Linked DNA regions of Homo sapiens: region 2 is reported to be linked to region 1. Evidence: microRNA targets listed by miRTarBase, many of them from high-throughput screens and not tested one by one. Region 1 holds a microRNA gene; the other region holds the end of a gene's coding sequence.

Region 1 (7,000 bases):
AGCTACTCGGGAGGCTGAGAGAGGAGAATCACTTGATTCTCCTGGGAGGCAGAGGTTGTGGTGAGCTGAGATCGTGCCACTGCACTCCTGTCTTGAAAAAAGAAAAAAAAAAGGAAGAACCTCGATGGAGACTAAAAAGAACTGTCCAGAGAGGTAGGAGGAAAACCAAGGGATGGCAGGTATTTCAAAAAGGAGGAAGAGGCTATGGTGACAGACACTGCAGGAGCATGGACAAGGGCACAGAACATCTGTTAGCTTTAACAGCTGGGCCAGGCGCGGGGGCTCACGCCTGTAATCCCCAGCACTTTGGGAGGCCAAGGTGGGTGGATCACCTGAAGTCAGGAGTTTGAGACCAGCCTGGCCAACATGGTGAAATCCCATCTTTACTAAAAAATTAGCCGGGTGTGGTGGTGCGTGCCTGTAATCCCAGCTACTGAGGAGGCTGAGGCAGGAGAATTGCTTGAACCCGGGAGGCAGAGGTTGCAGTGAGCTGAGATCGCACCACTGCACTCTAGCCTGGGTGACAAGTGAAACTCCGTCTCAAAAAAAAAAGTAACAACTGGGAGGTTAGGGTGACCTTACTAAGTAGAGGCATTTTGTGGAGGAGTGAAGGTGGAAGCCAGGGTGCAGTAGGGTGAGGACTGGCTGGGCAGAGAGGAAACTGAGGCAGAAGATGTGGACAGGGACTCTGCAGCGATTCATGGTTGGTCATGGCCGATTGATACGGGCGTGTGCTGAGTGGCAGACTCATAAGTGCTGAGCTGGATTTCTCACCCAGTCCTTGCTTCTCCTGAGAACACCTGCAGGAAGCTGGGAATGAAGGAGAGAAGGCAAGGGTAAGGCCTGGAAGCGAGGCTTCTCTCCTGTCCTGCAGTTTATTCGGTGGGAGAAACTTGAGGTAGAATAAAAACACTGAAGGGATTGGCTGTAAGGGAGCCCAGTGGTCACTGCCCTCCCAGCCCATAGGAGTAGAGATCAGCACTCCTGGGAGCCATGGACTTCTTCCTCTCAATGCGGGCCCTGGGGCGGCAGCCAGCAGTGGTAGGAAAGAGCTCTTAACCACGGTGTTGGGATTTAGGGAACTCAGGGAACTAGGATTACCCTAGTTTTCAGGGTAAGTAAGGAAGCTTGAAGAGCCTGTTCCGGAAGAAAAGCCCAGAAATAGGCTAGGTGTCGACAGAGGTGAGGGAGAAGCAGACGTTCGCCCAGAGATGGCATGGTGGAGCCAGCCCCCTCCACGCTGGCTGCACCCCTGTGGCCTGGGCTGTTGTGGCTTTACCAGCCAAGCCACTTTCTCCCATCCCCATGTTCTCAGTGATTTCCCAAGGCATTTCTGGTGTCCTTTGGGAGTGGAATCACGTGGGTTTTGAAAGGAACTGCGGTGAAAAATAGACCCTGACCTGAGGGCAGGGGCCGATGGGGAGGCCACTGAGCCCTCAGGAGTGTCTGAAAGCTCAGAAGATTCTGGTCTGGGCTCTGCGGGGGGAAGCCCCATAAGGGAGCGCCTCCTGGTCTTTGGTCAGCTTGACAGAGAGGCCCAGGGAAAGTACCTGGGGCTTCCAGAATATACCAAATTCAGAAGCCCACATTCACCCCTGACTGTGCTTGGAGCAAACCTGAAAGTTCACTCCCAAGAGCTTGTTCCAGCCCATTCCTTTATTCTGGAAATAATTCTTGGTATTGAAAGGAAAACTGGGACAAAGGGAGCTTGAGGAAAACGAAAACAAACAAGAAACTGGAGATATGCTATTTAGTCTTAACCCAAACAGATATGCTGTTTGGCCTTAACCCATGTGGAAATTTGTAAACTTTGTCAGGATTTCCCTGTGCATGGTGGTGAAATCATGTAGGGAAAAAAAAATTCACCGTGTAATCTCTTTAGAAGTCACAAAAGAAAAAGAAGGTTATCTTGCTCCCAAAAGGCTGTAAAAAGAATAAGTAAAGTGGCCATAGAGGCCTAGTCTTCTCAGGACAGTGTCCGGGTTGAGAGTCTGTCTCCTGAAGCGCACTCTGGGGAAAATCCCTTCCTGCCCTCCTGCAGGTCCTTAGGGTCCCAGACCCAGACAGTCACTTTCTCAACAGAGTGCCGTCAACTCAGCACACACTCCTCTCTTGAGCACAGAGCCCCAGAGGGAGAAGAACAAATGTGTTGAAAAGAATCTTATTAAGATGTAGTTAATTAAAATGTAATGTATTGAGGGGAATGGAGGTGTCCCAGGTGAGGGCTAAGTCAGGCAGGATTTTTGGGGAAGGCATTGCCGAAATCACCACCTGAGCTCAACACTGGGTGCTTCTGGCCCCTCCAGAGTTGAGGTGCCATCCATGGGAAGTGCAGTCCCCTGCCCTGGCCCAGGTTCAAAGCGCCAAGTAGCCACAACTCAGAATGCCTGCACGTTCCCCTCCTAGCCTTATATCTTCTCTCTGGTTTCCTCCCACGACAGTTTGACTTTGGGGACACCATGGTCCACCAGGCCATCCACACCATCGAGTACTGCCTGGGCTGCATCTCCAACACTGCCTCCTACTTGCGGCTCTGGGCCCTCAGCCTCGCTCATGCGCGTGAGTACCTCTCTCCGGGCTCCGGAACTCTAGTTTCCCCCTCTGTGGGCGCACTGTCAGTTGGGGGGCTTAAGTCAAATGGAAATTACATGAAGGTTCTGGAATTATTCAGGTTCCTGAACCCAAGGAGAATGAGTACAGACAGGAGGCTCAGCACTTGTGCCAGGTTAGCTCTGCATGGTGGTCCCACTAAGGCAGTGGGAAGCCAGGATCCAGGGAACCCTAGAGCAGGGGGATGGCAGAGCAAAATTCATGGCCTACAGCTGCCTCTTGCCAAACTGCACTGGATTTTGTGTCTCCCATTCCCCAGAGCTGTCTGAGGTGCTTTGGACCATGGTGATCCACATCGGCCTGAGCGTGAAGAGCTTGGCGGGAGGTTTGGTGCTGTTCTTCTTCTTCACTGCCTTTGCCACCCTGACCGTGGCCATCCTCCTGATCATGGAGGGCCTCTCGGCCTTTCTCCACGCACTGCGCTTACACTGGTGAGGGGCAGTGGGGCAGGGCGGGCATGGGGGTGGATGTGTCCTTAGCTGCGGTGAGAGGGCAGCTTTTCTCCCACACACAGCCCTGCAGCTCTGTGCAGGAAAGATGAGCTGGCCCTGCACTAGCTTCACCTCAGGACACCCCAGCACCGGCATTGCCACAGAGTTTCGGAAAATGGTCACAGAAAAGCACAGCTCAGCCTTCCCTAGGCTCTAGGGAGATGTCCCTGGTGAGTGGTGTCAGGTCCCGCTCCCTGCCTTTAGCTGTCCCCAGTGCTCCTGATTTTGGCTTAAAGGGGCTGCTGGGGTCTTAGGGTTTCTGGTTTTCTCTCTGATGTGTAACTCTTCTGTCTTCAGAACAGTGGAAGCAGCTCTGGAATGTATGTTAAGTGCAGGAAAGGCTAGAACACGCTGCACCCCAGCTTTATCCTCTTTGTTCTGTCATTGTGCCAGGGGTCTTTGAGTTGGACCCCTGGCAGCTCCATTGTGGACCGGAGGGATTCCTGGCTCTATAGGGTGGAGGTCGGTACACTCACGCAGCTTCTTCACATGGGCAGGTTTGGGGTGGTTCTGTTTGTTTTCTTTAATGAAGCTTGTGACTCTTAATGGCTGTGTGTGGAGAGAGCATGAGTTCAGCCTCTGGGACTGGGAGAGCGGGGGTGTGGTCTGGGCTGTGACCACCTCAAACCAGCGTTGCCAGATGTAGCACATAAAAGTACAGTTTGGCTGGGCACGGTGGCTCATGCCTGTAATCCTAGCACTTTGGGAGGCTAAGGCAGGTGAATCACCTGAGGTCAGGAATTCGAGACCAGCCTGGCCAACATGGTAAAACCCCGTCTCTACTAAATATACAAAAATTAGCCAGGTGTGGTGGCACGTGCCTGTAATCCCAGCTACTCAGGAGGCTGAGGCAGGAAAGAATCTCTTAAACCCAGGAGGCAGGGGTTGCAGTGAGCTGAGATTGTGCCACTGCACTCCAGCCTGGGCAACAGAGCGAGACTCTGTCTCAAAAAAAAAAAAAAAAAAATAGGGGAGGGGTTGGGGGCCAGGCACGGTGGTTCACTCCTGTAATCCCAGCACTTTGGGAGGCCGAGGCGGGTGGATCACCTGAGGTGGGGAGTTCGAGACCAGCCTGACCAACATGGAGAAACGCTGTCTCTACTAAAAATACAAAAACATTAGCCGGGCATGGTGGTGCATGCCTGGAATCTCAGCTACTTGGGAGGCTGAGGCAGGAGAATCGCTTGAACCCAGGAAGTGGAGGTTGCATTGAGCCAAGATCGCGCCATTGTACTCCAGCCTGGGCAACAAGAGTGAAACTCGGTCTCAAAAAATAAAAATACAGGGTGTATTTCACATAAACAACAAATAATTTTTTTAGTATGAGTATTTCCCAAATGTGCATGGGATATGCTTATACTAAAAACTGGGGCAGTCTGTATTTTCTGTGGCTGTTCCACCTCAGACTCCACTTCTTTGGGTCTCTATTTTCTCCTTTATGTTGTGATTCTCTTTTTGGGGGTCTCAAAACCCCAATGTCTCTGGAAGTTCTGGCCCCTCTCCCCAGAGGAGCACTCACACACTTCTCCTGTTTTACAAGCATAGGGGTCTGACTCACTGGTGTGCCTTAGAGGCCCCTGGATGGGATGCTCTGTGGTGTTCATGATCTCAAGGCCAGAAGAGGACTATGAATGTCTCTCTTCGTTCTCAAAACCTGAAGAAAATCCAGCATCTGAACCTGAGAAACTCATTCCCCACTCCCCTTTATCTTTGATTATTCTCATGGCTGGGTGACCCCTGAGCCTCCTCAAAGATTCAGCTGTGGGTTTTTCTGAATGATGGGCGGAGAGTGAGGCATGGAAGGGCAAGACGTGGCTAGGGTGCACTCTTCTTCAAAAGCCCTGCTGCGTCAGTAGACCTGGCTTCCTCTGGCCTGGCTCTCTCCCTCCTGGCCTCCCTCCTCCCCACCCAGCTCATCTGGCTGGCCTCCCTGTTCTAAGCTTATCAGCCGACCCCCGCAAGCACACTTCCTCAGCCCTCCTCAGTGCACGAGAACCTCTGAGGACTCACTTTTTCTTGCCCCTTGGCCTCCTTTCTTTTCTTTTCACTCCTGTCTCTTGAGCCCTGGGTTTGAGGGAACAGTGACCACCTCACCTTGATTCCAGCCCACGTGGGTAGCCGGTCATCTCCCTGGGCAGGGCGGGAGCAAGGCACTGTTGCAGAGCAAGGCCGCCTGGGCTTGAGCCTCATTTTGTTGCCAGAAGATTGCTTCCTCCTCAGGCTCACCTGTGGCCTCCCCGTGTCTTCCCAGGTCCCCCTGAACTGAAGTGATGAGTGGCAGGACAGCAGGCTCCGGAATTGGGCGACCTGGGTTGGAATTCCAGCACTGTCACACCAGGCAGGGAACCTGAGCAGAACATTCACTGCCAAGATTACTGTGAGCAAGTAGGAAGTAATGCACACACCAAGTGCTGCCACAGCAAAAGCAGGTGCTCTAGGATGGGTAGTGGCTGCTCTGCTTAAAAGTGGGATGCCCTTACTGGGTGCGATGGCTCACACCTATAATCCCAGCATTCTGGGAGGCTGAGGCAGGCAGATCACCTGAGGTCAGGAGTTCGAGACCAGCCTGGACAACATGGTGAAACCCCATCTCTACTAAAAATGCAAACATTAGCTGGGCGTGATGGTGGGCGCCTGTAATCCCAGCTACTCGGGAGGCTGAGGCAAGAGAATCGCTTGAACCCAGGAGATGGAGGTTGCAGTGAGCCAAGATCGCGCCACTGCACTGCAACCTGGGCGACAGACCGAGACTCCGTCTCAAAACAACAACAACAACAACAACAACAAAAAAACCTGGGATGCCCTAGAGAGAGGGTGTCTGCCTGGGGTCCCCCATAAAAAGACTGCTTTTAGCCTGTCTAGAGTGAGAGAAGACCCCAGAGGAGGCAGAGGATACCATCAGAATGCCCTCAGGTGCTGTTTGCAAGGAACAGCCTCCCCATATATGTCGTATTTATTTTGGCAATAGGAGTATTGGGTAGGAGAGGAAAAAACAGTGCAAACCTCCTTTGTGCAACTTCCAGAATCTCGTCTTTGGAGGGCTGTTCCCGTGACACGAGTGGGGCGCCTCCCCCACCACTAAAACAGAAGTGAATGAAATTGGTGCTTGTGCGCCCCCTCCTGGCAAAATGCGGCTGTGCGTCCAGGATGCCTGGATCTTCCCTGTGGCCCAGGACTGCAGGAGGCGTTCTGAGCTGTGGCCCTCTTACCAGGGGTGGAGCCTCTGGGGCTGCTGAACCAGCTGTAGGGATGGTGCTGCTGTTCTTCCTGGCATCCATCCTAGGCATCTTCATACCTCCCACTTTATCCCTGCTGTTTCCTGATTCAAGGGCTGCCCCATTATACAAGTTCTGGTCTCCTCAGTGGGGACAATAAGAAAAACATTTGATTCGATAACATATAAACCACTAGTGTGAGATTCATGCAGCATCATAGGAAGGGGGGTGATGTGTTTGAAAACAGTGAGCAGGCTAATGTATTAATCTGCTAATTCTGTCTCCTGAGTTTTCTCTCTTTTCCTCCCTCCTGCCACATGAAGTGTGCTTGGCTTCTTACCTACCATAATTAGACATCTTTTCTTCCTCAGAGAAGGCATGAGACAGGGATTTGATTGTAGTTATCACTGTAAACATCAAACTGATTTTTATGCAGAACTATTGCCCCAGGGCATACCTTCCAAGGAACCTGGTCTCTCCTTACCTAGCGAATTCCACATACACATAGATGTACACCTACCTGTACACTCACAGATTGGGTGGTGATTAAAGGGACAGAATCGGGGACCAGCTTCTTGTTAGGAATGCAGTGTTGCCACGGCATGACAGCATGGAGCAGTTGAGGGAATGGCTGCCCAGGAGAACTCAGAACTCTTGAAATGTAGTTCCAGGCTGCCATCATTG
Region 2 (7,121 bases), not on the chromosome of region 1:
CAGGTTGTTACCCAGTTATAAAGGAGTGAGGCAGGAGAGTGCAATATGCTGTATCTCATGGGTAAAGGGGTGGCGTGTGCATATCATAATTCTGCTAGTGTCCTGGCTCTGCCACTTGTCAGTTGTGACTAAACAGACATGTTACTTCACCTATTCAAGCCTAATTTACTCATATGTAAAATAAATATAATGGTAATATGTGGCTCATCAAGTAAGCCTTAAATGCTTGTAGCATAATTGTCTACATAGCATATGCTCAATGATTAGTAGCTCTATTATTGCTATTACTTAAAAAAACCCAGCAGAGCAGAAGAGAAGAAAGAAAGAATTCCTGATTGTTTCATGTAATTTTGAGTCATGGCAAACACCATATCCATAGAAAAATGGATAGGAAGAGACTAAATAAATTCCATTTTAGAGATTTAAGTGATGATGTGGGCTAAGGTATAGCTACACCTATGGGAAGCTAAAAAGACATGAAATTAGACATAATTAGATTGAAAAGTCCAACTAAGTTAAGGTCAGGGTAGTGTTGAGATGGTAAATGTCAATGTTTAAAAGGAGGTGCAAAGTGATTTAGCTTCAAATACATTGAATTCTTGGTAATATAGACATGAATATTTTCCATTGTATAACAGAGTTTTCACCTGTACTATGGAAACCTATTGTGTCCTTCATTCTTGCTTCTTGAGTAAGATATTGACATAAGAATAAATAATGTTTAGGTTATTTCTTCTTTATAAGGAAGTATAACAATATATTGTAGTATGATCCATAATTCCCAGAGATCCATGTTAATTTACCTTGCCATTACAGTGTAACAAATAATAGTGTAGAAGTTACAAAAAGAAGGGAAAAAGCATCAGAGTGAAAGTTTAGATAAGAGTTATTTAATTATTCACAATTAAGAAAAGGGCTTTACCCTATAGTTGTTTATTATTTCATGGTTTTGCCCAAGTCGTTTGGGCACTCTTGCCTTCTATTTTTTCTTTTTATTTTAAAGTGGGACAATTAAAACGACATACAATTAAACCCTAATAAAGTTTAAGAACTTTTGAGAAATTTAGTAAATAAAATTGATTGTTATGAAAATCCGTGACAATTGGTTTTTAAGAAAATAAATAATTAAAGGCTTAAGTGGCAGTCCACAATGCAAACTGGACTTATACACACGTAAATACATATATATGTGTATATGTGTGTGTGTAATACACATACACACTAGAATTAACCTCTTTTTTTATAACAATGGATATAAAATAAAATGATCAGATTTCTTTTTCAGATTTTGGGTCATTATGACTGATTGTATTTCATTTTATATCCTTTTCAAACTAAGAAAAACTTATGATATTATAAGTTGAAGATAAAAGAATATATATTTATAAAAACTTTCTATATATTATTTCTATGTTATGTATATGTGCATATACATGTTTTTGTATATGTGTGTGCGTATGTGTGTATCCCCACAAAAATAAAGAGAATGCCATAAGGTCCATTAGCAGACAAATATTTTGCGTAAATGTTTGGAAGGCTAACAGAACAATAGTGGGTGAAGCTGGGCAGAAAATTTGCAGACTAGGGAATCAGTGTTGCAGCTCAGTAGAAAACTTATCTTCTCATCACAATCCTAGGATGTGTCATGATTTGGACATATCATATGGCAGAAAACTGGAATGAGACATGAGGGTGAACTAGAATAAAGTAGAATGGAAGTCTGTAGCTCCCTTTCCCATGCTGTGTTTGAAGAACATAATTCGGAGGAAAAAAATAGGATTACAAAATGTAAAAAGCTGCAATTAACATCATCAGAGTGAGTCAAGAAAAGACTGATCTAAAAGTAAGAGCAGAATAATATAAAAAAAGACAGAGAACAGAACAACAAAATACTCCTGAAATTAACATTTTTTTTAAAAAAACCACTACAAAAAAAAATCAATAGAACTAGAAGACAAAGAGGAAAATATCACCATGAAAATAAAGTATAAGACAGAAAGTGATAGTTAAAATATAATTAGTGCTTAAACCTAGAACATCCAAAAACCAAAGATTCAAAATTCCACAGAGATAACAGAAAAACGCAGGGTAGGAAACTATTGAAGAATGATTGCAGGAAAAATATCTCAGAACTAAAGGTTCTGAAGCTCTTTGTTGAAAGGGGTCATGGAATACCAAGTCCTGAGAATGACCAAAAAAAACTCCTCTTGACTCGTCCATGTGAAATTTTATAACAATAAGGATAAAAAAAAGAAGACCATTATGCAAAAAACCATATCACATAGAAAAGAATGACATGGTCACTATGCTATCTCATCACCTCAGTTGGATGCTAAAATATGAGAGAAACTGTTTTCAGAATATTGAGGAAATCATTTAAAAAACATAATTCAAATGAGAATTATGTACCTAGCCAAACTACAGATTGATGAGGCAAATAAATAAATAAATAAATAAATAAATAAATAAATAAATTCAAGGAAGGAGTAATTTATGAAAATAACACACACCTACCACCACATACACATGTCCCTTCCTTTAGTAACCAAACTCAGGCTGTTTATTGACATTTAATAAACTCTTTCTTCAGGTCTAGTAATAACTTAGGGGTCACTTCAAATATAAGGCCTGCGTATTGACATGTGGTTTTAGGAATTCCCATTTTTAATAAAATAGTTACTGAAATTTTCCAAGGATTTCTGTGGGCAATAGCACATCCCTTCTAATTTTTTCTTCCTACCATTTGTTTATCCTGTTTGGCTCAAGATCTGGGCCTAACTATTTTAACACTTTTTTCTCTCTTTTCATATGTACACCTCTGCTTTTCAATCTTGCAGAAGAATTTTGACATTTGCACCTAGGAAATGTTTGTCTGGCTCCTCTTATGTTGTAGAAGCGGTGAGTTTTAATGTATAACCAATGCAATCCATAGTTCAAAGATTCCTAATTCTTATATTATGCTTAAAGGTTCTCTGTGATTCTCATAATTATATGTAGTCAATATTTAAATGATTTAGTGAACTTCATAAGATTGTCACTAGAATTTCAGAATCAAGACATTTTAGAGGAAATTTGTACAACACTAAGTTCAACAAATTAATTTTGCCAAAGAAAACAGAACACTGGGAGGCTAAGGAGCTTGACCCATATTTCTGGTGAGAATTTGGTACAAAAGTAATTTTAGATCATTTCTAGCATATCACATCGTTTCACTCATATGTGTTGATCTAATACTTCATTGAATATAATTAAATGTAACATTTAAAAATAGATATAAGTAACACACATATGTTACATATAATACATACATACATACTTCTATAAAAGTAAACATGCAAGGCAATAACAAAATTATGGTTTAATTATTATTAATAGTCAAAATTCCCCATATAAATTCTAAACATTTTTATAGTGCTTAATGCTTAAATGAAGGTCAGTAATTTTGTTATTATAAATAAAACAGAACCCAACATGTTATAAGTATTGAAATATTAGGCCTAGTGTGATGTCATAGCATAAAATGTATCCCATAATATTTATATTTACGAGCACCAAAGACCTCTTTTCCCCATATCTCTCCTCTGGTGACCCATTGTATCTGAAATCATTTCTATTCATTTTTTTCCATATATTTGGGTTTTTTTGTGTGTGTTTTAAACCAAGCCAGTTTTTAAAAAAGAAAATATGATGAACACCTGTGTGATTGATATGGGCCGAATTGTGTCTCTTCAAAAATCATATGTTGAAGTCCTAAATCCCAGCAACTCACAATGTGATTATATTTGGAGACAGAGCCTTTATAGAGGTAATCAAGATAAAAAGAGCTATTATGGGTGGGTCCTAATACAGTATAACTGGCATCTTTTTTTTGTTTTTGTTTGTTTGTTTGTTGGTTTTGAGAGAGAGTCTCACTCTATTGCCGAGGCTGGAATGCAGTGGTGACAACTCAGCTCACTGCAACCTCTGCCCCCTGGGTTTTAAGCAATTCTGTCTGCCTCAGCCTCTGGACTAGCTGGGATTACAGGTGCCTGTCACCACGCCCAGCTAATTTTTGTGTTTTTGGTAGAGACAGGGTTTCGCCATGTTGGCCAGGCTGGTCTTGAACTCCTGACCTCAGGTGATCCATGTACCTTGGCCTCCCAAAGTGCTGGGATTACAGGCACCGCGCCCGGCCTGGTGTATTTTATAAGAAGAGCAATTAGGACATGAGTAAGCACAGAGGGAGTACCATGTGAACACACAGAGAGAAGACGGCCATGGGCAAGCCAAGGAGGGACTCCCAGGAGAAATCAACTCTGTCAACACCTTGATCTTGGATGTTTTGCCTCCAGAATTGTGAGAAAATACATTTCGGTTAAGTCACTCAGTCTGTGATATTTTGTTATGGCAGACCTAGCAAAGGAATGCAGTGGTGTGGCAAAAATAAAAGCCGGATGTACTCAAAAGTATTTAACAGTTTGGTGAAAATAAGATCTACTTATTTCATATTTTTGTTTAGCACCTCAGCCATGAAGTTTGAAATGACCTGCCCCTCACAAGTTTTCTCCATGCTACCGTTGCTTCTGCCAAATGATCTCATGCAGAGGCAGTTAGATTTCCTAGCAAAATGCAAAATGCAGCAATTCCTGATGGGAATCTTTTTGTCTATCAGAAGTAATCTTGCATAGTAAGCTTCTTCAGGGGTTATATATCAATCCATAGCAAATCATGTTGCTAAGGCAAATCCCAAAATTGTCCTAATTTTTCTCTCTAGGATGGTTATGGCATCACCAGCTTTTAAAACATGTTATGTAAATACTTTCCCAAACATACTATAAATTATCACACTACATCAATATTATAATGCAGTTCTTGGGATAGACAAAGGTAAAATTGGGATGAGATGGAAGAAAACAAGTTCAACAGCCATTCCTGAGAGGGAGAAAATGAGAATATGCAACTGGGAGATATCAACAAAGAAATGGGGAATGTGAATTCAAATGCCCCCATTGCCACAGCATAGTGAGTAGTTGGATCATTTTAAAGGATGTATTTATAAATGAATAACGGTGAATATGATTTTCTTGTGTTGTCTATATTTCTGCCTGTTTTTGTCATGTGTAAATTTTTAGCTTCAAAACCTTGCAAATATTAAATATATCTATAAGTATTTCATAAACCCAGCTAGATAGTGACCATATCTTCAGGATGGACCCATAAGCAACTTTAATTTTTTTCATATATATAGTGACAATATTAGAGTAGTCACTTAAGTAGTTATCATATTCATATAAAATATATTATTTTGTAATTAGTTTGCATCTTTTTATGTTTTCCACGCTAGTGTGCAATCCGCTTGAAAGCAATGTATGTGAGTTTAGTTTACTAATGCGCTTATAAAATCTAATATTACTTAGAAATTTGCATCATTACACGGAATTTGTAAGGGATAATTTACATTAAGATTTTTGTAGATGAGAGAACAAAGAGGTAACTATGAGCTCCAATATAATAATGGTGCTCACAAAGTTGAAGTCCATGTAAGTAAAGTAAGTATATCAGCTGCCTGAAATTGAATTTACGTTCATTTTAGGATTCAGTCATTGGTTTGAACTTTTTTAAGTCCCTGATTTTTTATTTTTTTCAATAATGTATAACAAATATTTTTAGACATCTTATAAATCCATCCTCTATTATTTGATATGTATTTTATTTTTGCTGCTCATCAAAGAATCACTAGATTGTAAGAAACTCTGAGAAACTGTATAATGAATTTCTCTTTCCATGCTTAAATGAATGGCACTTTTTTCTTCTAAGAATTTTCATAGAAACACAACTTGAAATTACATCTATGACTAAAAGCTGAATCTGGTGACTGTTAAAACCAATTTTCCACACACCAGTACAATATTAAGCAAAACCAATATTTATTTTAATGTGTAATTTGAGCCCTGAGGCCTCTCTTTATAAAGAGGAATATTTTTTCTTTTTTTTCTTTCTTTTTTTTTTGGAAAAGAAAGTAACATTTTAATGAACAGCTTTAATGTGAACTAATGTTAAGATCAAACATTGTTTCTAGAATTTGGGACTTACATATTGAACTTGATATTTTCATATTTATTTCAATTTTCTGAAAGGATAGGATAAACAAATACGTTTTAGCATACAGTTTAAAAAAGAAAAAGAAAACCTTTTGAATTAGAAGAAGGTGGAGATCAGAAAGTGTTCTTCTTTTGTTCTCAAAAGGAATGAGGAGAGTCAGAGTGTCGCTATTGCTTCTTGACATAAAGACGGTGTCTTTGTTTTATGTCTTTATCTCTGAATCCCGCAATACCATCACAGCAGAGTGTACTGTACACCACTTTAAATGATAAGAGTTTCAATAGGCACTTTAGTGGAATTAAGAAAAATCTAACACTCTTCCACCGTGATGCCACATAGCTATCTTCGTTCTAGGTTGTCATGTCAGTAAATTGTATTGAATAGGCCTGAGCTTGTCTCAGTGTGATTGTGAAAAAACAAAACAACAAAACAAAGCAAGTACACATTATAGGATGTATCTCTTGTTGGCAGAATAAACCAAAACTGACAATATGATTAATTTAGTAACTTACTAGAAACCAGGTAATCAAAGGAATCTTGTCCCAGAGTGTGTGTGTGTGTGTGTGTGTTTGTGTGTGTGTGTGTGTGTGAGAGAGATTTCTATTAATATTTGTGTTTCTTTTTCTTTTTTAAAAATCTCCCCTCTCGGTTGTATTTTAGCCTCCACGACTCCCTTAAGTGACTTTATCAGGGTTATAACTCTCTTCTTCGCCAAACATGTCTGCCAAGACTTTAAAGCGGGGTCCCCAGTCTGTCAGATAGTCATAGTCCTGGTCGGCTTCTGTGGTGAGAGAGTCTATAGAGCTGAGGGACTCTGCCACGGACCCACTCCCTTCGTAGGCATATGTGGCCAGTGAATCGTATGGTGGGGCAGTTGGATCCACATCATTTTCCTGTAGCCTTTGATGAATGAAATCCCTTATGTCTGTGTTATCTTCCATGGGTGGTCTCTGACGAGGTAAACAGAGAGAGTCTGGTTTTATATCCCTGCGAATTTTGTTCTCCTCAATCACTTTTGGGTTTCTCAGAGCCCCGATGTC

What was found. The annotated mature microRNA hsa-miR-5010-3p reads UUUUGUGUCUCCCAUUCCCCAG and lies in region 1 at 2,848-2,869, shown strand. An mRNA with a match to its seed (bases 2 to 7 or 8) in the 3' UTR can be bound and repressed. Matches are read on the target gene's strand: a 7mer-m8 pairs with bases 2 to 8, a 7mer-A1 pairs with bases 2 to 7 and ends in A, and an 8mer does both.
Region 2: miRTarBase lists CDH12 as a target of hsa-miR-5010-3p. Seed matches in the 3' UTR shown: 7mer-m8 at 6,691-6,697 and 7mer-m8 at 6,650-6,656.

Annotation. Positions count from the first base shown.
Region 1 is chr17:42,511,420-42,518,419 of GRCh38, forward strand. It overlaps MIR5010 (microRNA 5010), which reads left to right and starts at 2,769; the gene lies at 2,769-2,888. ATP6V0A1 (ATPase H+ transporting V0 subunit a1) reads left to right here. Exons shown (of 22, transcript NM_001130021.3): 20 at 2,442-2,559; 21 at 2,870-3,041. RefSeq lists an enhancer at 5,188-5,687 and a silencer at 6,131-6,180.
Region 2 is chr5:21,744,982-21,752,102 of GRCh38, forward strand. CDH12 (cadherin 12) reads right to left here. Exons shown (of 15, transcript NM_004061.5): 15 at 5,692-7,121. The coding sequence ends at 6,756. Among named protein-coding and RNA genes, the nearest start is that of SNORA105A, 140 kb to the right of the region's middle.